Linked DNA regions of Homo sapiens. The protein of the gene in region 3 purifies or fractionates together with the protein of the main gene of each other region. This does not show direct contact. Each region holds a gene or a part of one and is shown on either strand. Other genes may lie near its edges.

The links.
Region 1: the proteins of TOR1AIP2 (region 3) and SLC20A2 purify together in Homo sapiens (affinity purification with mass spectrometry; 2 studies listed by BioGRID and IntAct, with this or other methods). This does not show direct contact.
Region 2: the proteins of TOR1AIP2 (region 3) and MTNAP1 purify together in Homo sapiens (affinity purification with mass spectrometry; 2 studies listed by BioGRID and IntAct, with this or other methods). This does not show direct contact.
Region 4: the proteins of TOR1AIP2 (region 3) and SH3BP4 purify together in Homo sapiens (affinity purification with mass spectrometry; 2 studies listed by BioGRID and IntAct, with this or other methods). This does not show direct contact.

What each region holds. Positions count from the first base shown.
Region 1 is NC_000008.11:42,498,229-42,505,736, forward strand, and holds the start of SLC20A2 (sodium-dependent phosphate transporter 2), read right to left. Parts: upstream 3,004-7,508; 5' UTR 2,803-3,003; intron 1-2,802. UniProt on the Homo sapiens protein: Sodium-phosphate symporter which preferentially transports the monovalent form of phosphate with a stoichiometry of two sodium ions per phosphate ion.
Region 2 is NC_000017.11:73,235,417-73,242,439, reverse strand, and holds part of MTNAP1 (mitochondrial nucleoid-associated protein 1), read right to left. Parts: intron 6,965-7,023; 5' UTR 6,958-6,964; coding exon 5,445-6,957; coding exon of another isoform or gene 5,344-5,444; exon of another isoform or gene 3,802-5,343; intron 340-3,801; exon of another isoform or gene 197-339; coding exon 89-196; exon of another isoform or gene 18-88; coding exon of another isoform or gene 8-17; intron 1-7. Other genes in the region: CPSF4L (putative cleavage and polyadenylation specificity factor subunit 4-like protein), read left to right, coding at 8-17. UniProt on the Homo sapiens protein: Critical regulator of mitochondrial DNA (mtDNA) abundance. Binds dsDNA throughout the mitochondrial genome without sequence specificity and controls mtDNA copy number by promoting its replication.
Region 3 is NC_000001.11:179,846,798-179,853,820, forward strand, and holds part of TOR1AIP2 (torsin-1A-interacting protein 2), read right to left. Parts: intron 6,015-7,023; 5' UTR 5,869-6,014; coding exon 5,835-5,868; intron 4,567-5,834; coding exon 4,048-4,566; intron 2,078-4,047; exon of another isoform or gene 1,428-2,077; intron 840-1,427; coding exon 738-839; intron 32-737; coding exon 1-31. UniProt on the Homo sapiens protein: Required for endoplasmic reticulum integrity. Regulates the distribution of TOR1A between the endoplasmic reticulum and the nuclear envelope as well as induces TOR1A, TOR1B and TOR3A ATPase activity.
Region 4 is NC_000002.12:234,947,510-234,955,019, reverse strand, and holds the start of SH3BP4 (SH3 domain-binding protein 4), read right to left. Parts: upstream 3,004-7,510; 5' UTR 2,850-3,003; intron 2,306-2,849; exon of another isoform or gene 1-2,305. UniProt on the Homo sapiens protein: May function in transferrin receptor internalization at the plasma membrane through a cargo-specific control of clathrin-mediated endocytosis.

The DNA.
Region 1 (7,508 bases), on a different chromosome or scaffold from region 3:
AGGATTGCAACAGAGGACTGAGAGTGGGGGGCAAGGCTTCTGGGGTCAGTCTTGTCACTTGTCCCCATCACTTCCCAGCTATGGAGGAGAAAGGGAAGGCACAGCCCAGGTGGCACAGCTGTCTGTCCTAATCGTCTTTGGCAAAAGCTCAGAGGAGCTGAATGCTGAAGTATCCTCAACCCACCCCACTCATCTTGTTTCCCTTTTCTTCATTTTCACATTTTTTTTTCTGCCAGTGTAGTTACTGAATGTCAGGGGGCCCAGTTTCTGTGTCCTGCCTTGTTGTAGCATGTGGGTTGGAACTATGCTTTCCTTGTGCACCGCATGTGCTGTGGGGTGCTTAATACATGCTAAATAATGACAGCAGTACCCCGTATGCCCGAGAAATCAGCCTTCCTCCTGAGGGCCATATCCCATTATGTTACACTTGTTTTTAAGACGGACGGAAGCTGAAGGCATCCCTCCTGCTCACTGCTCCTTCCACTTTAGATGAACAGCTGGAACTCACATAACACAGCCTCTTCCGACAAGATTTCCTTTAGAGAGAGAACATTCTAGGGATGTGATCACTGAGCATCCGGGCTCCAAGCCGAAAGGCAACCTGTTACATAGCGCAGTTCCCATTTAGCCATGCAGGCAAGAGACCCATTAAAACCTCATGTGAGGGAAGAGGTCCCAGAGAAAAGGTTCCTCTCTGCGTCCCTGAGAAACCCCTCAAAGCTTCTGAGCAGAAGGCTATCCCTCTAGGCAGAAAGTAACAGTGAAATAAATCTGCAACCGGCAGCGATTCTGTCAGAGCCTCTGGGTCTGTAACTATTTTAAGACGTGGAGGAGTAGGATGAGAGCACGGGCAGCTGGACAGAGTGGCTCCAACAGGACTGCAGGGGAGACGTGCGGTCACCTGCGGCGTGGGAACAGCAGGGCAAGGGCAGGCGGGCTCGGCTCCTGGACTCCTCCTGCGGCCACAAAGCTGCCCTGTTTCTCCGCACCTGGACCCCCAGTGTGTGACTCTGCATAGAGCTCATCATGATTTGTCGCCCAAGGTCATAACCAGTCACAGCCAGCATCATTTCACCAGGCACACGGGGTAGAAGCAGCGAAGAGAATCGCAGCACCGGCAAACACGAGGAATTCCGGCACTAACACTTATATAATGAAAACCTTCTCCGCTCTCACTCACCGCTGCCACTCTCTCACAGCACGTAAATCATTAAAACGAACACTCCTCAAGTGTTTATGCGCATTTTAGCAACTCATCATAAAGCACATGCTTCCTAGTAGTAGAAAAACCTACAGAAACGTCTGTGAAATTAAACAATGGATAAATTCGAATCAGCTTTTCTCTTTTGCAGGACTAAGAACTACAATAGGTCAAGTGAATACTGGTGTGAAAACTAATACCCAACTACAGTGTACCTTTAAAAATGCTCCACTGAGATTCTGATGGTGCCTTATTAACAATTAGAAGTAAGAAGTAATAGCAATAAGTCAGAATTTTTTGGATAAAAATATATATTATGAAGGATTACCGGAGCAAAACCCCTTTTACTGCTGAAGATGACATTAGAGGCTTCTGTTATCATTATAATTCATCTGGGCAGCAAATTTCTCTTCAGCTCAATAAAAACTAAGTATGAAGTAAGTTTCTTTCTAAAAATAGCCCAAGAACTCAGTACTACTTTCCTTTCTTACACTCTTTTCCTACTAAATGGAACACTGAAGTATTTCCTTTCATTGTTGACACTTTATGTCATTTGCATTTAAAATCAGACAATACATAATAACAAAGAAGTCTTTAACTAAATCTTTTCAAAATGGGAAAATGGCTTTCACAATACTAACTGTGGACCTGCCTCCTTCCTTGCTCTAGAGATGACAGGCATAGATAGCTGGTGAGCACCTATCCTATCGCCTAGGAGAACTGTTTTATTAATAACAATATTCCTAAAGCTGATACATTTACTTGCTAATTGATAAAGAAATTCCTGCCTGGTTCTCTGCTGTAAGCAAACTGTTTGGCTTGAGGTCAGTCCACATTGAAAACACACTTCTAAATAAGCAAGATGATTCAAATTTAATTTAAAATATTCAATATCAAAATCTTTTGTTTTCTTCAGTACAAATTTAAGTTGGTAATAATGTGTTAGATGAACTGCAGTTAAGGTTACAGAATCCCATGGCCTTTGGTTACTTTTGATAACTAACTCAGTCTAAAAGAGGATGCTTTAAATTATTCTCTAAAACCTTCTTCCTAAATTAATTTTTTAAAGTGCTTCTCTTTAGGCATATATGGGTTTATTTTTTAAGCACAAAATCCCCCTTAAAAGGATAAAAAACTGTCCATCTATACATTCAAGAAAATTACATTTGACACTCCATTATTTCTACAAAATAAACTTGTAGCACAGAGTATAACAGGAATTAACTTTCAACATTTTTTTCTCAAGAATTAGGTTACCATAGTAGAAAACAAAGCTCAATGACACAATACAATGTTTCTGTATTTACAGAAACCATATCCATTAATCAAATATTTTAACATAAAATAATAATCTACAGATTGCTTTTGCAAAAATAAGTAAGAATCGAAAACTTTTTCTTGGGCAAATTGAATAAGGCAGATTTATTGCAGTAGGAGACATTTAAAGAAAAACCTTTTGCCACCTCTCTTAGCTTTCTCTAACGTACCAACCTGAAAGCTTCCAGTTTTCCCAAGAGATAAACATTACTATGACGGTAACATTAGGAAGATTTAAGGAGAAAAGAACAAAGAGAAGTCTTAAAATTCCACCCAGTACTTACAAGTAGTTTCCAAGAAAACTGAGCCACAATTCTTCAGAAGACTGCTCTCCTGATCACAAACACAATCTGAAGTCTAAAATAGATATCCTACCACATTAGGCCGAGAAGTCACATTTCAGCTTGCTAACTTCTACTTTTACAACTCATAGAACTAACCCCGGCTAAAATTAACTGCAGCCAAGCAGCAGGCAGGAACACGCTGATTTGCATCATGTGTGCCGGGATTTATTCACTAGGACAACATCGGTGTCCTCTTAATGGGAAATGCGGCCAAGGGGCGTGCCCTGGTGAACAATACATAGCATCATGATTATGCTAATTACTGAATTCAGTCCAATAATACTAACTTCTTTTAAGTTGTTTTTGCAAGTACTGACAAAGAGAAGGAGTAAGCTTTTTCCCAACAGGCATTCACTTGATTTTTAAGCACATTCAAATCAGACCAAACTTTGGCAACAAGGTGGCAGTGCTGTGTGCTCTTCACAAGCAAAAGCAAAGCAAAAGGACATTCTGTCCGATTATTTAAACAGCGTGATTAGATGCAGCACTACGTGAAATTAAATAGACACAGAATATACATATCAGTAAGTCTATCCACCAGAATCCTGAAATAAAAGCTTTTTCTTTCTCTATAATGAACTGATTGCAGGGACTTGCTTTCTGGCTCTGCCTCCTCCTGCACCTCCCAAGGAGTCGCTATGAAGACACAGATTCAGTAATAAATCACAACTGAGAATAAACATCTCAAATATTTGCAAAGGCATTGTCCTTGGCAAGAAGCATTTTAAGGTGGATTTAACTCCTTGGCTAGAAAAATTGTCCTCTGTAGGTGACTGACCATCTACAAAGCATGTTGGAACTCAAGTTAACAGGTAAAGACCCCAAACATACAGCTGACACTTAAAAGAAAATCAGAACATGAAAAACTTTCTCTCGAAAATATAAGTACAACTTATAACAAAGACACAAAACCGCTTAGTATCTACTCAAGACGGTTTGGGACTAGTTTGCTTTAGACTAAGTTCTGATGACATATTTTGCTCTTATTGAACACTCTATGAAAGATATCAAAGCACTTTACAAACATCAATCAAATCTCCAAGCATCTTTGGGAGATGTCATTTTCCTCTTTTTTTTTTTTTCCCACAGACAGGTAAAAGACAGGGTAATTCCATTTCAACGACTTCAACCAACCCTGGATCACCCCATCTCCTCCTGAGACCTTTATAACATCTTCCGTATTAACCACTTACCTATAATCCTATAGACCTTTTCAGAGCCATTTGTTTTCCTCATTTTAAAATGTCATATGTTAGTTTGGACTTCAGGAGATTCACTCTACTTAACACCCAGATGCCAGGCCTGAACCCCAGGGGCTTAAAAAGCCCTCCTTGACTCTCTCTTGCAGACAGGTATCCTGCAACATGGATCCCTAAAACATGGCGATGCCCTCAGGAGGCACTGTCCATCTGCAGCCTGCTGCCCAAAGCACAAACCGGTTGATCTTCATTGGTGTGAGTTGGACATCACCAGCACAATCTCCCTCCTGTTGTTTACAAACACTGCTGGCTGCTGATCTGAGATTGCATCCCCTCGGCCTAACCTGAGGCTCTGTGCCAGCACCTGCCCCACCTCTGCAAGAGGGTGGCTGGTATGCATTCCCCTTCACTCCAACCCAGAGTCATGGGAGGCAGGCATTTCCTGCTCTGTGCTGAAAGGAGAGAAGTCAGCACTCATCAAAGATGGCTAGCTGCTAATGAACAGAATTATTCTCAATAATCCACTGCAAACTCACTCCAGAAGTCTTAATGCCAAAAAGGACCTTGTAAGGCTATTTTTGACACGATATTCTCATCCTATTATGTCATAGTTCAGGACAAAAGTCTCTAAGCCAAAATATTATTTCTGCCCTAAACCAGAAAGTAAGAAAAAGCAAATACACCAAGTGCATTTCTGCATCAGAGTTTGTATTGGAAAGGAGCAATCTGATGTATGATGGATCCTACATCCATTCATTGGAAGGCAGGGGCCCCTGAGCAATGCTCCGGTTCCTCACATGTCAGATATGCCTAGTATGACTCTGCTGTTTCAACAGCAGCCACACCTGTTCCACAGTGGAAGAACCAAAGCATTCCAAATAAAAGAGTCTCCTCCAATTTACATTAGTCATTCTGCTGCTTCCTTTTCATTAGTGAAACTACTTGAGTCAACAGTGCTTTTGTTCTAGGTATACTTATGACAGTAGATAAAAATCTGTATCAGAGTACCTTGAAAAGCAGAGTAAATTCTTCCCATTTGTTCTCATTAATTTTTGGTGGTAGAGGAGGGACAGGGAAGGCGGTGACCTATGGGATCTTTAGTTCAACGAATCCATGAAATTAAAGAAAATTACTATGTTTATGAATGTCCACTAATGAATGAACCCAGATACCAACCTTCTATGAGCAGTTACATGTATAATTTAAAATTTTCTAGTAGCTGCTTTTAGAAAAGTAACAATAAAGAGGTAAAATTAATTTAATAATATATTTTAACTCAATATATCCAAGATATGATCATTTTAATGTGTAATAATCATAAAAACTATTAATGAGATATCTTCATTCTTTTGTTTGTACTGCCCCAAGCCTGTGCAATCCAGTGCGTATTTTACAATTAGTACATTCCAATCTGGACAATCCACATTTCCAGTGCTCAGTACCCACATGTGCCTGGTGACTATCATAGTGGAAAGCCAGAGTGTACAAATATCTTCCTGACAACAGCTTTTCTACAACATGTACTAATATTTACATGTTTCTGGGCATGTGCACACTTATATACACTCAAGAAACATCAACTAAATACTGGGCATATAGGATGAAAAACGCCTAGTTTTTGTCCTCAAGGAGCTCAAAGTTTAGATACTTGGCATCCTTTGTTTTTTAGAGCTAGGGTCTCATTCTGTCACCCAGGCTGAAGTGCAGTGGCACAATCATGGCTCACTGCAGCCTTCACCTCCTGAGCTCAAGCAATCCACCCACCTCAGCCTCCTGAGTAGCTGGGACTACAGGCACGTGCCAGCACACCTGGCTAATTTTAAAATTTTTTTGTAGAGAGGAGGTCTCACCATGTTGCCCAGGCCAGCCTCGAACTCCTGGGCTCAAGTGATTCTTCCACCTCAGCCTCCCAAAGCACTGGGATCACAGGCATGAACTACTGCCCCTGGCTTCTTGGCATTCTTTACCTTTGAAATAATATGCAAAATATTCTGTGTTCTCTGTGTGTATTCTTCTGGGGAGATAACTTTCTTCATCACTTTATTAAAGGAGTCTGTGTCTCAAAAAGGTTAAGAGCCAGGAGACTAGACTAGTAGCAGATGCTGGGAGAAATGGAGAGCTAAGGAAAATGAAGGAACTGAGACAGATAGAAGGGGAAAGATCCGAGGAGAAAGAAAGACTAAAAGGAAGATAAATAAACAAAAAAGAGAGAAGAAGAATTTCATTGCTAGACATGAAATTTTAGTTATAAAATCATATAATAAAAATTGGTGGCCAGGCGTGGTGGCTCACGCCTGTAATCCCAGCACTGTGGGAGGCCGAGGTGGGTGGATCACGAGGTCAGGAGTTCAAGACCAGCCTGACCAACATGCTGAAACCCTGTCTCTACTAAAAATACAAAAAAAATTAGCCAGGCATGGTGGCGCACGCCTGTAGTCCCAGCTACTCAGGAGACTGAGGCAGGAGAATCCACTTGAACTTGGGAGGCAGAGGCTGCAGTGAGCCAAGATCATGCCACTGCCAAGATCACACCAGCCTGGGCAACAAAGCAAGACTCCGTCTCAAAAAAAAAAAAAAAAAAAAAAAAAAAAAAAAAAGGCATGTTCCAGTTACTATGCCAGGTACTGGGGACAGATACAGAGATGAAAGACAAGGTCTCTATGTCCAGGGAGTTCACATTTTAGTGACAGGAACAGACTCACCCAGGCAGATACAATACTTGGGTAAGTATGAAGACGCAGTTTATGTGCAATGTGCTATGGCTACAGCGGGGAGAGGAAGGAGGGTGCCACACAAGAGGGACGCAATACCCCCCCAACCTTTTTTTTTTTTTAATTGAGAAGATGTCTCACTCTGTCGCCCAGCCTGGAGTGCAGTGACACAATCTTGGTTCACTGCAACCTCCACCTCCCAGGCTCAAGCGATCCTCCCACCTTAGCCTCCCAAGTAGCTGGGACTATAGGTGTGCACCACCACACCTGGCTAATTTTTATATTTTTTGTAGAGATGGAGTTTTGCTATGTTGCCCTGGCTGGTCTCAAGCTCATAATAGGATAGTAAATAAATAGGCTGGGCTCAAGCAATCCACCCAACTCGGCCTCCCAAAGTGCTGGGATTACAGGCGTGAGCCACCATGCCTGACCCCTCATTTCTTAAATGAAGGTTATTTTCTGATCAAATTTTAAATCTATGTTCTGGAATAACTCAAGATTCTGCATTTTAGTTTGGAACCTTAGAAAAGCATGGATAGGTCATGGAGAAATCAGGTATTCTAAAATATTTTAAAATGACATCTGGAAATAGCAGTGAAGTTTCTATTCTGAGCTATTTATCATCAAATTGAACCTGGTTATTTGATCCAACTATTTAAGGTTGAGGCAGGAGGATCACTTGAGGTCAGGAGTTTGAGACCAGCCTGGCTAATGTAGCGAAACCCCGTCTCTACAA
Region 2 (7,023 bases), on a different chromosome or scaffold from region 3:
TCTTTAGCCTTGCTTAACAGCCCGAAGAGAAACTTTTCCAAATGCCCAGAACCTGCAACAGAAGACAACAGTCAAACTCCAGCCTCACCTTTTTGTACAGCTCCCAAGAGCCTCATTAGAGAGAAGTTGGAGGTTGTAAGTCCGGCAGGGGGTTCCAAACTCCTTATATGAGTTGAGCTTCGTTCCAACAAAGAAACTATGGTTCCAAACAGAAGTCACTGTCATTGTTTACCGAAACGTACCCCCTTCCCTAACATCCAGTGCCGAAGGATCCACGGCTAAGCCTCAGGAAGAGCATATTCTAAACAGGTGCATTAAAGATTTCTGCATTGGACTGCAGCTAAGTGTTGAAAGTCAAATCAATTACAGGTTGAAAAAATGTTTTTCAAAAGGCCAAGGGACCCCTGAAAATCAGGGCGTCTACTTGTTTTTTGGTCTGCTGAGTACCCTGGCCAGGTGATTGATGCGCATGTGCTTCATGAAGTGAGTCTCTTACATCATCTTTTTGTTTTTGACACAGTCTCACTCTCTCGCCCAGGCTGGAGTGCAGTGGCATGATCTTGGCTCACTGCAACCTCTACCTCCTGGGTTCGAGTGATTCTCCTGCCTCAGCCTCCCGAGTAGCTGGGATTACAGGCACACGCCATCACGCCAGGCTAATTTTTGTTATTTAGTAGAGACGGGGTTTCGCCACTTTGGCCAGGCTGGTCTTGAACTCCTGACCTCATGTGTTCTGCCCGCCCCAGCCTCCCAAACTGCTGGGATTATAGGCATGAACCACTGCGCCTGGCCTCTTTTACATATTCTATCATCTGCTAAACATGTCAGCTAAAAGCGTGACTTTCTCCTTTTATGATTGTGACTTGCCCACAGTCAACATGCCTGTTCTATCACCCTATCGCTATTATTGGCCAGCAAACATTTCCTATTTATGTTCAGTGCATGAATAACTTAAGCAGAACCAGAAAAGAGGGCTTATGCAGGCCGGGCGCGGTGGCTCACGCCTGTAATCCCAGCACTTTGGGAGGCTGAGGTGGGTGGATCACGACGTCAGGAGATTGAGACCATCCTGGCTAACACTGTAAAACCCCGTCTCTACTAAAAAACAGAAAAAATTAGCCGGGCGTGGTGGCGGGCGCTTGTAGTCCCAGCTACACGGGAGACTGAGGCAGGAGAATGGCGTGAACCCAGGAGGCGGAGCTTGCAGTGAGCAGAGATCGCTACACTGCACTCCAGCCTGGGCAACAGAGCAAGACTCTGCCTCAAAAACAAAAAAAAGAGGGCTTATGCTCCTTAATCACATTTCTCCTGTACATGGTTTTCTCCATGTTTTATGACAGGTAATCTCTACTACTGATAGTTCTCTAGTCTTGGTTTGGTTCATCAAGATAAAGAAGAAATTAAACACCGACAACAGGTTTAGCAAGTGTGGTAAAAGTTGCTGTGGATGTAAAAATATCCAAATGATCATTAAAGAACAATGAAAAGAATCATGCTGGCTTCCAAGAAATTGCACAGAAGATAATTCTCTTGCAAGGTGAAGGTTAGTCTCTTAAAAAAAAAACCCATTCATCTTGGAAAAAATTTGAGGAAAACGGTGTAAAGAGACAACTTCCTGAAAATTGCAACCATGTTGTCAGCAGTGTCAGGATCACGTGGCTCCCTGACCTTGCCCTGCTTTCTCCAGTCAGGTGAGCCTACTGTCCTGACCTGCAGTTAATTCAGTAACTGTTAGCTCACTGGCCCTGCCTTTTAAGTACCAAAGGAATGAGTTGGCTTCCTGAGAAGGGCAAATGACCTATCAAAGGTCTTGCCTGAGTGAGAAAAGGTATAGCCCATTCTCTTGTGCAAAGATTCCAATAAAACTCTAATTTGCAGTCATTGGAGACAGTCATTGCCTGGTGAAATTACAAAGCTTTTTAAGGAGCCAATGGCACCATCTTTTAATCCCTATAGATTGATATGGCCTTGAAGTCCTTGGCCAATGGAGGGATCAGGGCTTGACCTGATCCTAGGGTCTCTCTCCTCTAGTATCTTGTGTTCATTTGGTGGTAACATCAAAGTCTGAACACTGATCCTGGATCCAACTTCAATAGTTTTTCAGTTTATAATAGAAGTAGAGGCCCTATGATGATTACACCTTATTTACTGTCTTGATGTAGAAGTCCCAAACTAAGTACAACATTTATTAGTTACAGACTATGAGCAATAAAAGGGATTAAAATAGTTTCTCACCACTATTTGGAAGGAACTTGTTACTGAAGAAAAAATTCTATTTTCCCTCCTATATCCTGTCTCATAACCTTGGTAATTTAATGTTTTAAGTTACTGTATCTTATTATTGTATTCTTAGGAGCTAACAGTGAAATGTATCAATAACATATCAAACAAGGTATTGACTTCTATCTGTGGTCTTTAAACTCTACTTGAGGCTTACTGTTTGGGAGAGTTAGTAGTTAATACCTCCAGGTTCACCTGACTCTTCTATCTGTGGTCTTTAAACTCAACTTGAGGTTCACTGTTTGGAATAGTTAGTAGAGTCAGACGAACCTGGGTTTGAATCCTGATTCTGTCACTTACTGCATGAACATAGGGAAGTCACTTAATGTCTGAAGCTCAGGCCAGGCCTGGTGGCTCACACCTGTAATCCCAGCACTTTGGGAGGCCAAGGCGGGAGGATCACCTGAGGTCAGGAGTTCGAGACCAGCCTGGCCAACATGGCAAAACCCCATCTCTACTTAAAAAAAAAAAAAATTAGCTGGGCGTGGTGGCAGGCACCTGTAATCCCAGCTACTCTGGAGCCTGAAGCAGGAGAATCGCTTGAACCTGGGAGGTGGAGGTTGCAGTGAGCCGTGATTGTGCCATTGCACTCCAGCCTGGGAGACAGAGCAAGACTCTGTCTCAAGAAAAAAAAAAAAAGATGTCTGAAGCTCAGATTCCTCAAGAGGAATAAGAGGGTGGGACAGTGGTGTCACTCAGAGCTGTTATGAGGATTAAATGACATAATGTATCTAGCATAACGATAGTCATAGTCATCACAGATAAACGTCAGGTCCCTCACTTTTTCCTCTAAAATGAAAAGTGTGTATCAAGGACACTCCTAAGCACTATAAAATGTAGTACAGAAAATACACAAGTCCTTCAATTTGGTAGAGAGATTTATCATGGGGGGAGTGTGTGCATCTGCAACTGAAAAACACAGAAGGCTGGACACGGTGGTTCACACCTGTAATCCCAGCACTTTGGGAGGTTGAGGCGGGCAGATCACCTGAGGTCACGAGTTCAAGACCAGCCTGACCAACACGGAGAAACCCCATCTCTACTAAAAATACAAAATTAGCCGGGCGTGGTGGCGCATACCTGTATCCCAGCTACTTGGGAGGCTGAGGCAGGAGAATCGCTTGAACCCAGGAGGCAGAGGTGAGCCAAGATCACACCACTGCACTCCAACCTGGGCAATGAGCAAAACTCTGTCTCAAAAAACAAACAAACAAAAAAACAAAACACACACACACACAGAAAAGTATGGCACTATAACAAACATGGTTTTAGTTATGGTGTATTTTCTACAACATGGTTTAGTGGAAAAGATTAAACTAGGCCTCAGGAAACTAGGTTCTCCTTGCAGCTCTACTATTTATTGGCAACACAAACTTGGACAAATCACTTATGCTCTCTGTGCCTGTTTCATCATCCACAAAATAGGATAAATTCACTCTGCCCACCTCTCTGTCCACCTTGTGCCCAAAATAAAAAAAATACAGATGGAGGCACTCTGAAAACCACAAAGCAACACAAATGTTAATATAATTAAATGTGTTTATTACGGAGAAGGGGCTTGACTTTGTGACTACAACTTTGTGCAAAAAGGTCTAGACGTTAGGCCTGTTTATAGAAGGTAGTTAAAGAAAATGTAGCTTTGGGCTAGCAATGTTCTGCTTTTAGTACACATCCATTTTGAGACCAGGCAAATAGAGGTTTAGTGAATATGAGATCATTTGCAAAATCTACCAGAGAAGAAAATGATTTCCCTTTAGGAAGAGATAATACCAGTTTTTCTCTTGCAAACCTATTCTGAGTTGTTACAGGTCTCCTGTCAAAATAAGCATGAAAGCACCAATGGCCACTACACACGACAGGTATGCTACTTTACAAACGACAGGTATGCTACTTTACAATCACCCTGCCCCTAGAAAAGCTTAAGAAACTTTATGTATTTTAACTAGAGAGGTGGTCTCATAACTAAAGATGAGATTCAGCAGAGAAAAGCAAAGATATTTCAAATGACTGTCAGGAACTTCCTGGCTCCTTGGGCCTTGGTCTTCCCTCCTGTTAACCGATTCCAGCCATCAGCAAAAGGAGCCTCTAGGAAGCTTCTGAAGTTTGATTCATAATCAAGGTGAGTTTCAACGTTCAGTCTTTCGCCCCAAGCCCTTCTCGCCTCATCTCTCCTGTTTCCAGGCTCAATCACTGGTTTTATTCTTGGGTCCTAGTCTCTGTGGCCTACATTTTTTCTTTTGTTTTTGGCCACATCCTCCGTTTCTGGTCCTTGATCTTCACTGTTCATTTCCTGAGCCTCCACTTCCACTTATCTGCCTTGCCTGCCCGTCTTACCTGGCTAGTTTTACCTGTGTCCTACCACCTGCATCCTACTTTGCTACTCTAAATTCCTAGATGTTGCATTTGCCTGAAACCTAGAACCTATTTCTTGTCCTGTAAACTTAGAACCTATTTCTTGTACAACCTGGTCCTGACTGGATTCTGAACACAGTGCTTATTCTATCTAGCTGAATTTCAAGTCTTTATATTTTTCTCCAGTCTGTTTACCCATCCAGTTTCTACTGGACATGCCTCTTCTCAAGGCAGAAACTCAACTGCTTTCAGTATCGCCAGCCTGCCCTAGTGTAACCCTCAACTCTTGGGGGAGAGAAAAAGAGAGGGATAAACCACCACTACTGACCACTGAAGCAAGAAGTAATGTTTTCAGGACAATTTTTTTTTTTTGAGACAGGGTCTCATTCCCGTCGCCCAGGCTGCAGTGAAGTGGCACATACTCGGCTCACTGCAGCCCTGATTTTCCGGGATCAGGTGATCTCCCACTTTAGCCTCTCAAATAGCTGGGACTACAGGTGCGCCACCACACCCAGCTAATTTTTTGTATCCTTAGTAGAGATGGGGTTTCACCATGTTGCCCAGGCTGGTCTTAACTCCTGAATTCAAGTGATCCACCTGCCTTGGCCTCAGCCTCCCAAAGTGCTTAGATTACAGGTGTGAGCCACTACACCCAGCCTCTTTCAGGACAACTTTATATGCAGTCTACTGGCATGCCTAGGTGAAAATAAACTAAATGACTGAAAATGTTAGTATTTTGACCCTTATAAATTCAAAAGGCAGAGAGAGCATTTTGGATGGGACAGATGGCAATTGAAAATAAGCTTGTTTACCTTGTGAGAGTCTTTCCCCCTGGGGACTGATAAGTTGTGGCTTCTGGGTCATTGCATTCCAACACTGAGGCTTCCCTGGCAACACCCCTAGTCCAAGGTAACCAGGATAGAGCTCTGGAAACCACTCCAGCCCCATGCAGCTGCGAAGAGTCTTCCTGCCAGCAGCTGCAGCATGATTGGTGAAGGGGCTCTGAGGAGTGTGACGCTGGGCTGAACATAAAGGGCTCTGGCACCCAGTGTGTGATGCTTGGAACTGACTATCAGATTTGGGCTCCAGAGATAACTGTCCCTCGGGACTCTCCATTAATGCCTTTACATCAGGGACACAATGATGATTCTGGGCTTCTGCTTTCTTTTCTTGAAGAAATGTTGTAGCTAGAGAGGCAAGACTTTGACTACTTGACTGCGATACAGAATGAAACTGGTAAGTCGTCTCCCTCGGAATGAACAAACTTAAATGTGGTCTTTCCCCTTGAGACTCCTTTCCTGTGACTGAATCCCTGGTGTTGAAGTTCTCACAGCCATGGCTCATGACAGTCCGTTCCTGCTTTTCTGTTGCAGACATACTTTTCTCTGCATTTCCTTTGCTCCCACACGTCTCTACTCCCAGGGTAAGTCCTTTCTCTTGTTTCTCCATGACTTGGATTTTACCTAATGAGCTCATTTTAAGGCTTAAAATGAGGGATTCTGTGTTCTTTTCTGGAGTCTCAGTAACTGTAACATCAGTAGGGACTCCTGAGAGGTGATCCCTGCCTTTGGAATCTCTCTCATTGCTTAATAATGTTCTTACCCTTTTAACCCCATCACTGACATTCTTTGGAGAAATATGACAATCACCAGTAGGCACATCTAGTAATTTTACTAGAAGTTCCTGTCTTTGGGGATCAATTTTGTCCAATTTGAGATCACCAGAGGTAGTTTGTACATCATTAGGTAGAGTTGAGGAATATTTTCTATCTTGATTTGACAAAGAAGGTTCTATTGAGCCAACCAGTAAAGACGCTCCAGCTTCTGAAGGATTACATCGACTTTCTCCTGATTTAGGCAAATCTTTGGCAAGTTCTCTTTTAGGAGAGGTTTTCTCTGATGCGTAAAACTGAGCCTTGGTTTCTTCTTGGAAAGTAGTCATTGGTTTAGTATTTTTTAACATTTTGAAGGATGGTTGGATTGGATTCTTGATGTCTTTATCTGCCTTTGTAGTAGCTGCTCTTTCCAAACCAACAGCTGGCAGTGGAAAGGTCTTCACTGTCTGTTCTGGTTTGTCCACCACCAACTTAGAATTTCTTTCTTCATTCTCTGTCTCTAACTCTTTCCCTTTAGCTTTAATTAAATCTTTGATTGGTCCTTTCATCTTTTTAGCACGTGGGAGTGTAGCTGGCTTGGACTGATAAACTTTTTGATCAGTAGGTATGGTTGGTCCTATCATCTTACAGTATGGCAAGTGGGATTTTAATCGTTTAAATGGCTTCTTACAGTAAGGACACACTTCCATTCTGGGTGGATTATCACTCATCCTATTCCTGAAAAAGGTAAATGTGAGATTATGAGAAGCACATAGTTTGTACATACCAATATTTTA
Region 3 (7,023 bases):
GCCACAACCAGGACGACAAGAATCACAGGGCCTGTCAAAAGAATGAAAAAGGAATAGAAAATTACAGAGAACACGAGCCAGAAACAAAGCCTGTGGTAAACTGAAATGAGGCAGAGATACCAGCAGGTTTTACTAGGAGCAATAAGTTTCTTTTGCATAAATTGTTTAAACTTTCAATCCACCAGAAGTACCTTTTCTCTAATCTCTTCTCAGATTTAATTATTTGAAGATATATCTGTTAAAAGATAAAAGCTACGTGGAAGAGTTAAGTACTCGGTAAAAAATTTTTAAAAATAAAAGGTAAAAGCTGAGTCTATGTATTTGTTATTATAACTAATGATGTAATTTAGACATGAGTGATCAAGATTTTTTTTCATCTTCTCAATGCACCTACTACCTATAGCCGACCATTTTTTTAGGAGTCATAACTTTAAAGTGCACTTGAAAAATTAATATTCTCTAATTAGAAAGGCAGTTTTTGTTTCTTGTTTAGGAAAAGCCTTTCCTATTGTGAGAAATTCCATTTTGTTAAGCACAGCAAAATATCAGCCAGCACCCGTAAGGGAAAAATCCCTAAAACTCTAGTGTACTATTTTACTATGTCTCACTACCAATCATTAAATAAGTATATATAAACACAATGTTAAAACTGTTTAAATCTGCTAGTTTTCTAGGCATTTTCACTGAGGATTTCTGAAAGTGAATCAACACTGCAGTAAAACCAGGTTTGTTCTCACCATAGCTCCAAAAACCCTTTTTATTAATCTGTCTCATGGTGTCCTGTGCATTCTCTTTAATTTCTTCCAATTTTTGTGTTTGTTGTGGATGACTTCCAGCCTCTGGAGAGGAAAAGAATCAATATTATTTTTAGGCAGTACACTAATGACAGTATGTATACCTTTATATCTCTCACCAAACCAAAGAATGATTTGACTAAAAGGCTTTCTATACCTTGGCCAGGTACGGTGGCTCATGCCTGTAATCCCAGCACTTTGGGAGGCTGAAACAGGTGGCTCACTTGGGGTCAGGAGTTTGAGACCAGCATGGCCAACAAGGTGAAACCCTGTCTCTACTAAAAATACAAAAATTATCGGGCATGATGGCGGGCGCCTGTAATCCCAGCTACGTGGGAGGCTGAGGCAGGAGAATCGCTTGAACCTGGGAGGTGGAGGTTGCAGTGAGCCGACATCGTGCCACTGCACTCCAGCCTGGGGGACAGAGCAAGACTCCATCTCAGAAAAAAAAAAAAAAAAAACCAAAGTTAACATTTTTCCTGTCTTTTCTTTAAGACTATTACTTTTATTCTACTTAGAAGGATAAAATGAAATACTGTGAAATTCATTCAAGGATAATGTTGCTATATTCACAATTCCTTACTGCCTCTTATATCAAAGACAAAGACATTTAAATAGTGCGGCCAAACTTACCTAAAATGTAATTCAGCAAAATGTATAAAATCAAGAAGGGATTTAAGAAATGTTGGCTGTACACAAGATTCAACTTCACAGGGTAATTGTGCTCTAATTCCAGTGTTCGAGTTTCACATGGTTCCTCAAGACCCCGAATATAAAAATAACAGAGGCACTAAGTTCTAAGATAGGAGAGATTAGTGTACAGTTGCAAAATAGCTTACAGAAGCAAATTTGAAACTCTTAGTGAAGGAGATATACAAAGCAAGGAATATAAGGTGAAGAAAATTCACGAAATATGTAAAAATCCAGATGTAGGGAGGGCATGCCAAGCTTAAAATATGTGGGTGAAAAGAAGGGCAACAATTTTTAGCACTCTAAGCTAAATCACACTAGAATCTAAATTTGTGCTTAACCCCAGCCAGGTACTTCTATTAGCATAGATGAGTAGGATCATCTTCACTTATAAAGGATTGTTCCTATCACCCCAAAGAGTAGGTTCTTAAAATATCATATCATAGAATCTAAGAACTGAAAGGATCTATAATGGACACCTACTCCGGCCCCATTACTTAACCTATCATGAAAAAAGGTCCAGGGATATTAAAGATCTTGCCCAAGGTCACATAAAGAGATGTAGCTGGCTGGGCGCAGTGGCTCACGCCTGTAATCCCAGCACTTTGGGAGGCCGAGGCGGGCGGATCACAAGGTCAGGAGATCGAGACCATCCTGGCTAATACGGTGAAATCCCGTCTCTACTAAAAATACAAAAAAAAAAAATTAGTTGGGCACGGTGGCGGGTGCCTGTAGTCCCAGCTACTCGGGAGGCTGAGGCAGGAGAATGGCGTGAATCCGGGAGGCGGAGCTTGCAGTGAGCCGAGACAGCGCCACTGCAGTCCGGCCTGGGCAAAAGAGTGAGACTCCATCTCAAAAAAACAAAAAAAAAGAGATATAGCTAAGTTGAGATGAAAACAAAGTTTCTCATCTCTTAGAGTATAGATAACCTCATTCAACTATATTAAATTGCTTTCCATACATAAACTGCATTTTTTTTTTTAAAGACAGGGTCTCACTCTGTCAACAAGGCTGGAGTGTAGTGCTGAAATTTCGGCTCACCACAGCTTCAACCTCCTGGGCTCAAGCAATCCTCCCACCTCAGCCTCCTGAGGACTATAGGTGCATGCAGCTGTTTTTGTGTTTTCTGTAGAGATGGGTTTTTGCCATGTTGCCCAGGCTGGTCTTCCTGGCCTCAAGTGATCCACCAGCCTTGGCCTCCCAAAGTGCTAGGATCACAGGAGTGAGCCACCACCCTTGGCCTAAACTAGATTTTTTTAAACAATATTTTTTCTACTCACAGTGAACCTGCCTAACAGTGAATTTTTTTTTAAGAGATGGGATCTCACTAGATTGCCCAGGCTAGCTAGAATGCAGTGGCTATTCACAGGGGTGATCATAGCACACTGCAGGCTTGAACTCCTGGGCTCAAGCAATCCTCCCAACTCAGCTTCCCAAGTAACTGGGACTAGAGGTGTAAGTAATTGCACCTAGTTTATAACAGTGAAATTCTGACGCAGGTCATGGTCCTTACAGATCACATTCATTCATTTGACAAAATTCATAAAGGTGTTTCTATGTGCCAGGTGCCAGAGATACACAATGAATGAGAGGACACAGTCCTTGCCTTCACTGAAGTTACAGATTATTCTAATGATTAATAAATAAAACATATATTTGAGATTAGTCATTGATTTGCAGTGAAACATGAATTACTAGCCCTTGCTGAAGTCCCTGATGAACAGAACATCTTATATTTTATATTCTTTTGCACTGGCAAATGGGCATTTCAGACTGAGCTCTTCAGAGTGCTTATAAAATACAAACCCACACAGACAATCACAGAAGGTGAAAGTTAGAAGAATGTTTGGATATCATCTTGTCCAACTTCTTCATTTTACAAACAGGAAATTGAAGCACCAGGAAGGGAAGATTTTCCCAAGGTCTCCCAAGTCAGCAAGTGGTAGGGCCACAACTAGAATTCACACCTCCAGTTCCAGTTAAGGATTTAGCACACTGCAACGCTTAGCTTCATAAGGGAAGACATGCTTGTTCCTCTTAACATATAGGCAGAAAAAACCACGTATAGAGAAACTAACTGTCTTACTCAAAGTCCTATAAAACTGAAACATGACTGAGTTAAGGATACTGTCCCATTAATGCTCATTTTTAAATATACCCATCTCTTGATTTATGTAACATTTAGTTTCCCAAAAAGTAAAAGATTTTAAAAATTGTAAGTCGAAATATTCTCATAAGAAATAAAAAACCAGAAGCGAATTTTTTAAAAGTCATGCCCCTTTTTGTCATATCACATTAATATAAACAGTTAATAAAAACATGCTTAGAAATGCAGTTTATGTGTAGGAAGCAACTTAATATAGTGGAATGAGCTAGCCTAGATGAGAAACCTCATTCTAAAATCAACTCAGTCATGGCTTGGTGTGAGCTTGGGCAAGGCCCAAAGGCCTTACTCCTATGAAAGATGACAAAAGTTCTCTGGAAAGAAGGCCTCTGACTTCTGCTGTGTTCTCAGTTAACAGAGCAGTACAAAACAGGAGAGTAGTTCAGGGGGTTCTCTTACCTGGGGCCAGCAGTCGCCTCCTCAGTGTATCCTCACCCTCTTGCCCTGCACTGGAATGACCAGGACTCTGGGCCTCCTGGGAGTCTGTAGTAGGTGGTTCCTGAGATGCTCCAGTTCCGTCACTCGCTTCCTTAGGGAGGGCCACAGAGCTGCTCCCTAAGTGTGCATCTGCTCTTCCTACCTTGTCACTTGGAGAATGGCTGGGATCTGGATCCAAGGGTTCTTTACCCAGATTTTCTGAAGGGAGGTGATGCCCTTTTCCGCCATCCAGAAAACTCTGCTTGTTCTCATCTTCTGTTTTATCCTTTGGATGTTTCCCCACATTTGCTTCATCTGGACTTTCTGATTTATCACCTGTATCTGCACTTTCTGGACCTTCTGTCTCTACCTCTTGGTGGTCTTTGCTAAGACCACAGGCAGAGTGTAGGATCTCAGCTTCTTCAGCATTACTTGCTATGATTGTGGTCTCCTGCGCCTGAGAATTTACTGATGGATCATTTTCCAAATCCTTTTGAGAGTCTATTGAGATAAAAGTTTATAATTTTTATTGGAAAAAATTCCCCATAAATTTATATTTTAACAAGGTCCCTGTTTAATAATAATATTTACATAGATTTTCATGGTTTACAAGACACTTCCTAAACATTATTTCTCTTGGCTCCCACTAAAGGCAATTAAAACAACAACAAAAAAAATCTTATCATGTTAATAAATATAAAATGACACTAATATAAAACAAATTATATGACAGAACAAACTTTTGGCTATATTAAATATATCCTCTTCCCTAATGAAAGGCAATGCTCATCAATGGTAGCAAAACCTTATGCAAAAGGCTGATAGGGACTTTTATAGTGGATGAGCCAGACTGACAACTGCTGAACCCAGCGACCAATCTTCACATCATGAAAACAGGGAAACCCAAACAGATATCATTTACTTTCTAATACAATGCAGTAAGAAGTACTCTAGACCACTTGGGAAGTATTTTTGCCAAACAACTAAACTTAAATCTGGTAAGTTTCTAGAGCAACCAGTTTCCAAGAAATATAGGGATACAGGAATACATTAAATTATGCCTCAAGAATATAATCAGCAAAACCCAGCACGTGGGAAATTCCAAAAGACTTTGTTTCTTTAATAAAAGTAAGAATGGCCAGATGTGGTGGCTCATGCATGTAATCCCAGCACTTTGGGAGGCCAAGGCAGGTGAATCACCTGAGGTCAGGAGTTCAAGACCAGCCTGGCAACATGGTGAAACCCCGTCTCTACTAAAAATACAAAAATTCACTGGGTGTGGTGGCAGGCGCCTGTAATCTCAGCTATTCTGGAGGCTGAAGCATGAGAATCACTCGAGCCCGGGAGGCGGAGGTTGCAGTGAGCTGAGATCACGCCACTGCACTCCAGCCTGGGTAACATAAAAAAAAAAAAAAGGAGAAGAAGAGGAAGAAGAAAGATACCTTCTAAATATAGCACATCACAGGATATATATAACTCTAAAGATTTGTCTACCATCATTTTTTAAAGAAGCATTGTATTTTTCCATTACTATAAGTCCTTACTATTGGAGTCTCTAAAACATTTATCTTCCTTATATTATAATTAGGGTCTCGCATTATAGTAAAATTCAGTAAATTTGAAAGAATAAGTATAATCAAAACAAATGAACCCACTGAATTAGCTTTTTTACTTCAAAACCTCAGATTTTAGTCATCAGAGATTTTCTCTCTCTGCACACCCCTGGTTTCCTACAGCAGCAACCTCAGTGCCAGACAAATCAGTCTTACCCTCTTGAGGTTCCCTAAGTCCACTGTCGGCCATGTTTGTGTTCTATCTCTTCAGAGTTGGGAGGATACTTTTTTTAGTACTTGGTTTTCCTTGTGAAGATGTCTTGTTTTCTTCTTGTCCCAAGTCCCAACAGACTCATGCTTCCCATGGACCCAGGAAATAAGGCATATATACAGTGACTAAAACAAAATGAAAAAAAATTAAATGACTTTTTATCCATACAAGGGAGAAATGCAAGTATCAGCTTTATTTATTAAATATGTGTAGCTTGAGTACTATTTCCTCTGTGAAACTTTTTTCGTGAAGAAAATTTCCTTTCATGAGAATCATATTCCAAATCCTAGACTACTGAAAAAAGCTCCAGATTATTAATCTTTCATGAATTTCATAATCTAATATATTCCAGCATAGTTGAAAGAGTATAAAAAGTAAGATCAAGTGACCAGAATCTTCAACAGACTAGCTTGAATTAAAATAAAAAATAAATCTAAGAGTAGAAATTTAAGTCATTGCTGAAACAATCACTGCAGATTTCCTGGATGTCTTCAATTTCTGTCCCAGATAATTTTCTCATAGTCTGCCTATCAGGAGCTTTCACTTATATTAAAAAGTAACAATGCACAGGAGGTTCCCACAAACTGAGATGGCTGCTTTGAGGTGTACCACTACACATTTGGACTGACTTTGAAGTGGTTTTCTCGAAGTATTCTTTTGTAAAATATGGAGACAGATATTCCTTTATACAATGCCTTTTTATGCAATGCTCAAAGACAGACAAAGAAAATTATTAAGGTTTACACAAAAGGAATCAAAATCAAAGGCACTTTATAAGCAATAAAAACAGTCATATTTTATAGTTCTTTTTTTTGTCAAAAACAAATTGATCAATAAAGTTACTTAATATTTATTCCCTATGAAAATGAGAATAATGATATCTATGAGGCTTAAATACAAAAATATATAAGAAAAACCTGTGTGAAGTGTTATAGTTTTTTGACAGCCTAGCTGGAAGGCTAGCCAACTGGCCGTCTTTATGTTTTTCTCAGTACTCTTTTGTAAAATTTAAATTTACACATTAAAAACTTTGATCCCCAATGCCTACACGGTGCCTAGTGTATAGTAAGAACTCCATATTTTAACTTAAAAGCTTATGAAAAAATAAATGAATGTATAAATAAAGAGTGATGC
Region 4 (7,510 bases), on a different chromosome or scaffold from region 3:
AAGGGAAATCCACATGGCTGGCCAGTTGTAAACAGCAGCTCCTACTCGGTCAAAACAAGGCTGGTACCTGAAACGAGGCTGGAACTGGGAGGTCTGCCTGGAGCCAGGGTCCAGGGACGAGGTCTGCCAGGGCCGCACTCTGGAGCTCTCAACCTTGTTTGGGTCAAGGGCTCTGTAAGAAGCTCCCCAGGAAAAGAAAGCACACACACCTCCCACGCAATTTCAGGGGAGCCAGGGGCTCTTAACTGGCCAGGATCCCAGGATTTAAAACCAGGAACACCTCCCAGGATTCAAGGGCGTAAACCACATTCACCATTCGCATATCTTATGATCAGACTAGAATCCAGCATTAGAATAAGAAGAAAGTCTATTCAAGCAGCCCAGAGGGAAATAATTCCAGGCTGCCGGATTAGCAAACAAGAGCAAGGGAGAAAAGCCAGGAAGGTCCTCCCTCCACAGAGAAAAGTAAGAGCACAATACATGAACAGACAAGGCACCCGGTGAAGGATACTTTATCAGCATTTTTTTCAGCCCACTTTCTGGGTCTTTCCAAAACCCCCTCTTGAGCTGTGATCTGCAACTAGACAGACCCTGATCAGATCCACGTGCTGGTGGAAAGGACAATTTAAAAAATGAAACTATCAAACGACAGACGGTTACAGAAAGAGGATCTTCTACCCTGATTACTTTGTTGTTGTGGGGGTGGCATGGGTGCTTGGGGACAAAAGGCATGCTGTGAAGTACCTCTCCCCACCTGGGCCTTTGGTACCCAGAATTAACAAATGGCATGGGTTCTTATTTATTGTTTTATAAGATCACTAAAATGTAGTCTTGGGACAACAGGAAAAAAATAATAATAAAGCTCACAGAAGTGTCCTGGGCTTCTCCGCAGCCGGTCATTGTTCATTTAGTAAACAAGTGAGCCATACAAATCTCTAGGAAGCCAGGTTTGTTCAGTTTATGCGTCCTCCCAGAACTAACTGTTCTTTTGGATAAGCACGGCCCGGGCATTCCACAGACCCACAAACATCAGGCAGTGGGCAATCTGGGGTCCCGCCTAAATATCACTGCCCCCTTACTTTAAGAAATCCGCCTACAAGCAGAAAGCAGAGGTGGAGGAGGGGGATTGGAGAGCGCTGCCTCTTCCCAAGCTTCCCACTCTGAGGGATTTGGCCGAGTCCCGAGGGCACTGAGCAAGGAACCAGGAATATTGTCCTCAGGGCTCCACTGGACATTCCTGGAGTCTGTTTCCTGGGCAGGACGGCCAGGTGAGAGGCAGCCTATTACACTGCATGACCACTGCAATGAGGAACAGTAGAATGTTCCCCAGCGCCTTAAAGTACAGCCGCTGTCCATCCACGGATGTCAAAACGCTCTGCAAACCACCCATTAATTTTTATGGTGGCTTGAGAAGCAGATTGAGAATCATTACCTTCATTTTTACAAGGCAAGGAACCAAAACCACAGAGGGCGGTGAGGATCCAGGCCTCTCCCATCATTTCATCTGGGCCACGGATCTCAAGGAAAGCCCCCAGCCCACTGGGAAGGGGACTCGTGGCCAGCAGAGATTCTGCCCGGGTAGGGAGCAAGGAAAAAACCCAAACTTTGGAGCTCAGAGACGGTCACAAGGGTGAGAAGGGGCGGCTGCATTCAGGGATTCTCTGGTTTAGGCAAGAATGGCTCCAGTTCTAACTTAATGTTCAAATCTGCCAGGCTGTGACAAGGCTGGTAAAAAATGTGGGATTGGGGATGGTTTCCTGTTTGCTGTTTATATTTCTCTTTATCTCTAGCTTTCTGTCCTGAGCATACATTGTTTCTGTAATCAGAACAAAAGTTATGCGAACTTTATTATTATCACGGATAAATTCTATAGTTCCAATCTGCCTACTAACTTGGAAAGAATAAGCAGGAATACAATCTCGCACAGTGTTCTTTTTCAGATCTCATCGATCCATCAGGCTCCACGACCCTCTGCTCGCTGAGTCCGGCGGCTCTCCCGCGGCTCCTCCCGCGCGGCATCTCTGGGCGCCCGACACCCGGTCAGGGCCAGCTGGGCCTGTCCCCAACCCCCGTCTACACCGCAGGCCCCGGGCTAGGAGCCGCGGGACCCAGGGTTGGGGTCCCAACTGACACCCGCCCGTGCCGCGGAGCGGGCTTCTCGGTAAACATCGCTCAGAGAACAACGCGCCTCTATCCCAGCCGGTCCCCGCCCGCGGGCCGCCGGCGCTGTCACCTCGCGGCTGCTCGGTCACCCGATCGCCAAGCCAGAAACCGGAGTTTTCAATTTCATCCTCACAGGAGGGATCTCCGAAGAAGTTGAAATATGCATTGTCACCAACAAGTTTAACCGGAGACCGCGCGTCCTTCCCTCCTCCCCAGCGCCGCTCGAGGGGGGCGCCCCGACCCCTCCACGCCCTCCCGTGGCCCCCACGGCCCCCGTGAGCCGAGCGCGCCCCCCGATTTGCGCCCGAGGACGCGTCCGGTTGCCCAGGGAGGCCACCCCGCAGGGCCGCCCGCCGGGAAGTGGCCAGAGCCGGGGTTGGGGGGCGGCCCGAGCGCACGCGGAGGGCTGCGGCTCGGCGCCCGGAACCCCGGGCCGGGTCCCTGCCCACCAGCACCAGGGAGACCCGAGCGCCCGGGGGAGCGGCGAGGGGCGCGCGAGGCTTCCCCGAAGCCGCCCCACGCCCAGGCACCCGCGCAGCCCCGAACTCAGGCGGCGGTGGCACGATCGGCGCCCGCGGCACGATCTGCGCCCGCAAGGGAGTGCAAAGCCCCCGAGCACGACCCCGCGCCCCCGCCGGCCCCCAGGGCCCTGCCGCCCGAGGCGCTCCCCGCCGCCGCCTGCCTACCTGGCTCGCATGGCGTCCCCGCCGGCTCCTGAGGCTCCGCTCGTCGGCCAGCGGCTCGGCCCAGCCGGGGGCGCGCGCGGCTCCGCGGGACTCACGGCGGCGGCGGCGGCGGTAGTGGCGAGGGGCCCGGACCGCCGAGAGTGCCGGGCGCGCTGGGCCCCCGCCTCGGCGGGCGGAGGGTGGTCCCGCGCCTGGGCGGGGGCGGGGGCGGGGGCGGGGGCGGGGGCGCGGGGGGCGGGGCCAGGACCGGAGCTGAGGCCGCGGAGGGGGTGGTCCCGCGCCGGGGCGGGGCTTCGGGAGAGGGGCGGGGCGGGGCGCGGCCGTCTGAGGCTGGCGAGCGTGGGGCGGGCTGGGGGTGGTGCCGCGGCTCCGGGTCCAGGCGGGTATCCAGTCTGGGCGCCTCCTCTTCTTCCTCCGCCCGGAGCCGGCCAGGGTAGCGGGGCCTTGGCCGCCCGGCATCCTCGGGTCTGGGTCCCCGGTACCGAGCAGGTCTGGGTGCTGGCCCGCGCTCCTGTGCCCCCCCGCACCCCCATCTCCCACCCCTTCTCCGGGAACCCCTAGCGAGGACCCCTGGGGCGGTGCGGTCCCCCCGCGAGCGGGCGTGGGCGAGGGTCGCGCCGCGTTCGGAGACGCTTTACTACACCTTGGCTGAGGACAGTGGAGGGAAGGCAGGCGCGAGGCTGCGGGGGCCGGAGCGAAAGTTACAAACTAACAACAGGGAAGGCAGTCCGGCTGAAAATCATAAAAGGAGGAGAGTTTCCTGCGAAGCGGAATGCAGATTGAAGGGCTCTGGTCGGAATCGTTTACACTTTGTCTGACCTGGGCGCCTCTGGGCCCCCGGCGCGTAAAACAGGCCTGGCACGTAGTAGGCGCTCCATCAATGCCCAGTGAGTGAACGCACCACTTAACTATGTGGCCAGCAACGTCTATGGACCGACACATCTAATCCTAAAAAAAAAAAAAAATCCCAATTTTGGCTAGTCCATTTCACACGAGTAAACTAGAGCTCGGAGGGTTGGTTCGCCACAGAGGAGAAGGGTAGAACCAGAATCTGAACCGAGGCCGACTCCAGAGGCTGGGGTCTAACCACTGCGCCACTGCCTGGGGCCCTCGGGACTGCGCCCACCCCCACCCCGGGAACCCGGAGCCCAGGAGAAAGCGCGGGTCTTTGCCGGGGAAGAAGCCAACATTTGTTGCTCCTGGTCCTGAGCGAGACACACACAGTCAGTCCTCACCATTAACCCCGAGGCAGATATTGTTATTGTCCCCGTTTTTATAGGTGGCTTGAGACGTGCAGCACTATGTTATGATCGCATGGGGCGTGCCAGAGTCTGAATTCAAACCGGGTATGTTCAGACTCCCGAGCCCCTGCGGCTGCCCCTAAGGCCTGCCGCTCCTGCCGTCTGGGAGACCTTCCTTTCCCTAAGGAATCTGGTTTTCTGCCACTCCATTTGAAGTCTGTGTTGAAGTTTCAGGAGACACAGGTGGACAGAGGCACCGACCTAGGGCTCGGGAGAAGGGTGGACATTGCTGTTCCGATTTTGGTGTCATCTGTGTGTAGATCATGGAATTCCTGAAAATGGATACGAGTATCCCTAAAATACATGCCGCAGATTTTGAAAGGAGGCAGTGAGGCGAAGGGGCAGGTGGAGGAAGCAGAGAAGCCTCCGAGCAGAGGAGAGTTTCTGGGTGGCTAGGAGGTCTGATTGGTGTAGGGATGTGTCTGGAGTGTGCTTGAATCTCTGGCAAGTTATCTCGCCTCTCTGTGACTCAGTTTCCTAAATGAGTGTAAAAATGAAAGGCAGCATGTAAAGTGCTCAGCAGACTGCCTGGCACACAGTAGCTTTCAGTAAGTTTTAGCTACTATTAGTACTGCTATCCCAAATGACATCCACACTGTGTTTTTTAAAAAATGCCTATAAAAACATTGAAAAAGACAAGCCAGTAGAAAATGGACAAAAGCTATGAAGGTAATTCCTGAAATGCCACAAATGGCTCAAAGCATGAAAAGCTCCTTGACTATACTAGTGAGGGAGCTAAGGCAAAACATACACACACAAAAAACAATCGAATAAGAAAACTCAAGGCCTGTCCAGGCAGCTCAGTTCACTGAGCAGAGAGGGAGAAAGATACCCTAAAAACCACAAAGAACAAAGTGCCATGGAAACGCAGAATAGAACATGAATAAACAAAGCATTACAGATTTCGCCTGGGGAAGCAGAGAGTGTGTCTTACGATGTCCACATATGTATGCGCAGTACTTGCTATAGTCATGCCTCAAGCATCCTCAAACCAGTCCACATCCTAGAGAGGAATTAACAGAGGTCAGAATGTTTAAACAAAGTGGTTAAAAAAAAAAAGAAAAAAAAAACAAGAACACATTACCTTATATTCTTACTACAGTAACTGGAATTCTTCTTCAGCTCCTATGAGCCAGGGAGACAACATTACTGGTTTAGATGTAAGTTGTTTATGAACTGTTTTCTTTTTGTATCCTGGAAGGCAGAAAGGTCTCTAGATGTTGCTTCCTGTTGAATGTGTGCTTTTTTTCCACCAGTTTTTGTTACTTGCTCTTCTAAAGGCCTCTGGATCAAAAGAAAAAAAAATGAGCTATTCATTCATAACATTCAATTATTCAATAAGCCTTTCCAGTGGGAACACATACAGCAAAATCAATAACTTGGGTTTTTATTTTTTTTTAGTACAGAGATAACACATTTGTTTCAAAGGATTAAAATGATTAGAGAAATGTGTAGAGTAAAAAGTAAGCATCGATCCTAAGTTCCTACCCTTTCCCAGATTCCATAGTTCACAGTGAATTATACTCTACCAGAGGTTTTCCCCAAGCGTTTGCACGCGTTGGGTGCGTGCATGTGTAGATGATACATATGTGCGTGATGTGTGTGGGTATATATACGTGGACATGCATCTATGTATAAAGACAGTGTGGTAGGTTCTAAAATCAGGCTGCCCAGCTTTGAATGCCAGACCCACCACTCACCTGCTGGGTGACATAAAGCAGGGCCACTCAGTACCAGTGTTCTCACCTTGAAGTGGGTACAGTGCTCCCCAGGATTAATGGAGGTGCTGCATGGAGACTGCTTAATGTAGTGCTGGGCGCACGGCACATTGTTTACAAATATAAGCTGTTACTATTCGTGTTTACACACACATATACGTTATTCTTTGTTTCACATTAATAAGTTGAAGACAGTGAAATTTGGATGTCTCAAAAGGACTCCACTTGGCAAATCTCTCGGTGAGCGCTGGCTCCTCTGTGTTGGGGTGTACTCAGCGGCTCTGTTGTCTAGGAAAGTAAGATGCACACAGATGAGCAGGGAAAGATTGGGGTAGGTTTGACAGTCAATGTGCTGCATCTGTTACTAACACCAGCAACAGTTCAATCACACCAAGCACCACCAATTCATTCCAAGGACTTCTCAGAATAGATACAACACTCCCAGAAAAAGCAGCCCGGGCAAGAATAACTCCCAAGTAATATACACTATCCCAAACTCTACATAAGCTCTCTAATATGTTATAACATTCTGACCACCTATAAAATACACTTCATATTAGGAAATAACTACTCAGAAATTGCATGTGGCCCATAATGAAAATATCTCTCTATGGACAAAAACATTCTCAGCAATGAAATAAAAAGAATAATGTTCTTCTGGTGAAGTGAAATCATTAATGATCAAAATGCCCATGTCACAGGGAAAATAGAATACAAATGTACAAAACACAGCTAAAGGGCAAAGAAGAGCACAAGGCATAGGATATTTTTCAAATGGAATCTGTAAGAGTAGAAATTTAATCGTCAATGTGGGTGAATGGATTTTTAAATTAGTTGCCTCTGACTCAGAATGCAGAGAGAGGACCTGTTATCAAAATGCAAGCCTAGATACATACCCTCTGTTGGTGATAAAATTTGGATATTTGTTCCTTCAAAATCTCATGTTGAAATATGACTCCCAATGTTGGAGGTGGGACCTGGTGGGAGGTGTCTGGGTCATGGTGACAGACCCCTCATGGCTTGGTGCTGTCCCCCCAATAGTGACTGAGTACTGGGGAGATCTGGCCTTTGAAAGTATGTGGCACCTCCCCCTCTTTCTCTTGCTCCCACTTCGCTTTCCACCATAAGTAAAAGCTCCCTGAGGCCTCATCAGAAACTGAGCAGATGCCAGAGCCATGCTTGTACAGCCCACAGAACTGTGAGCCAAATATATCTCTTTTCTGTATAAATTACCCAGTCTCAGGTATTCCTTTATAGCAACACAAGAACAGCCTAATACAGTGGATTTAAGTTGAGGGAGAAAATGCTGCTTACATGATTCACAAGCCTACAGAATGACATTCATTTGTTCAAGAAATACTTATTGGACATCTGCTGCATGCCAGCCCCGAGCGTGGCCCCAGGGAGTGAGAGCCCTGGTGAGACAGAGGCAGCTGAGATTCCAGAGTGGACCCAGGCAGAAGGGGAACCACAAAGCCTACAGGTGGTGATAAGCATCCTAAAAGAAAGCACAGTGGGCTGTGAACTAGGATGAGGTGAGACCTGCTTTATGTGGGAGGGCTGGAGAAGGCCCTAGGGGAGGTGACATTGGACCCGAAGGGAAAGGAGTGGAGAGGGGCGTGCTGGGCAGAGGGAACAGCAT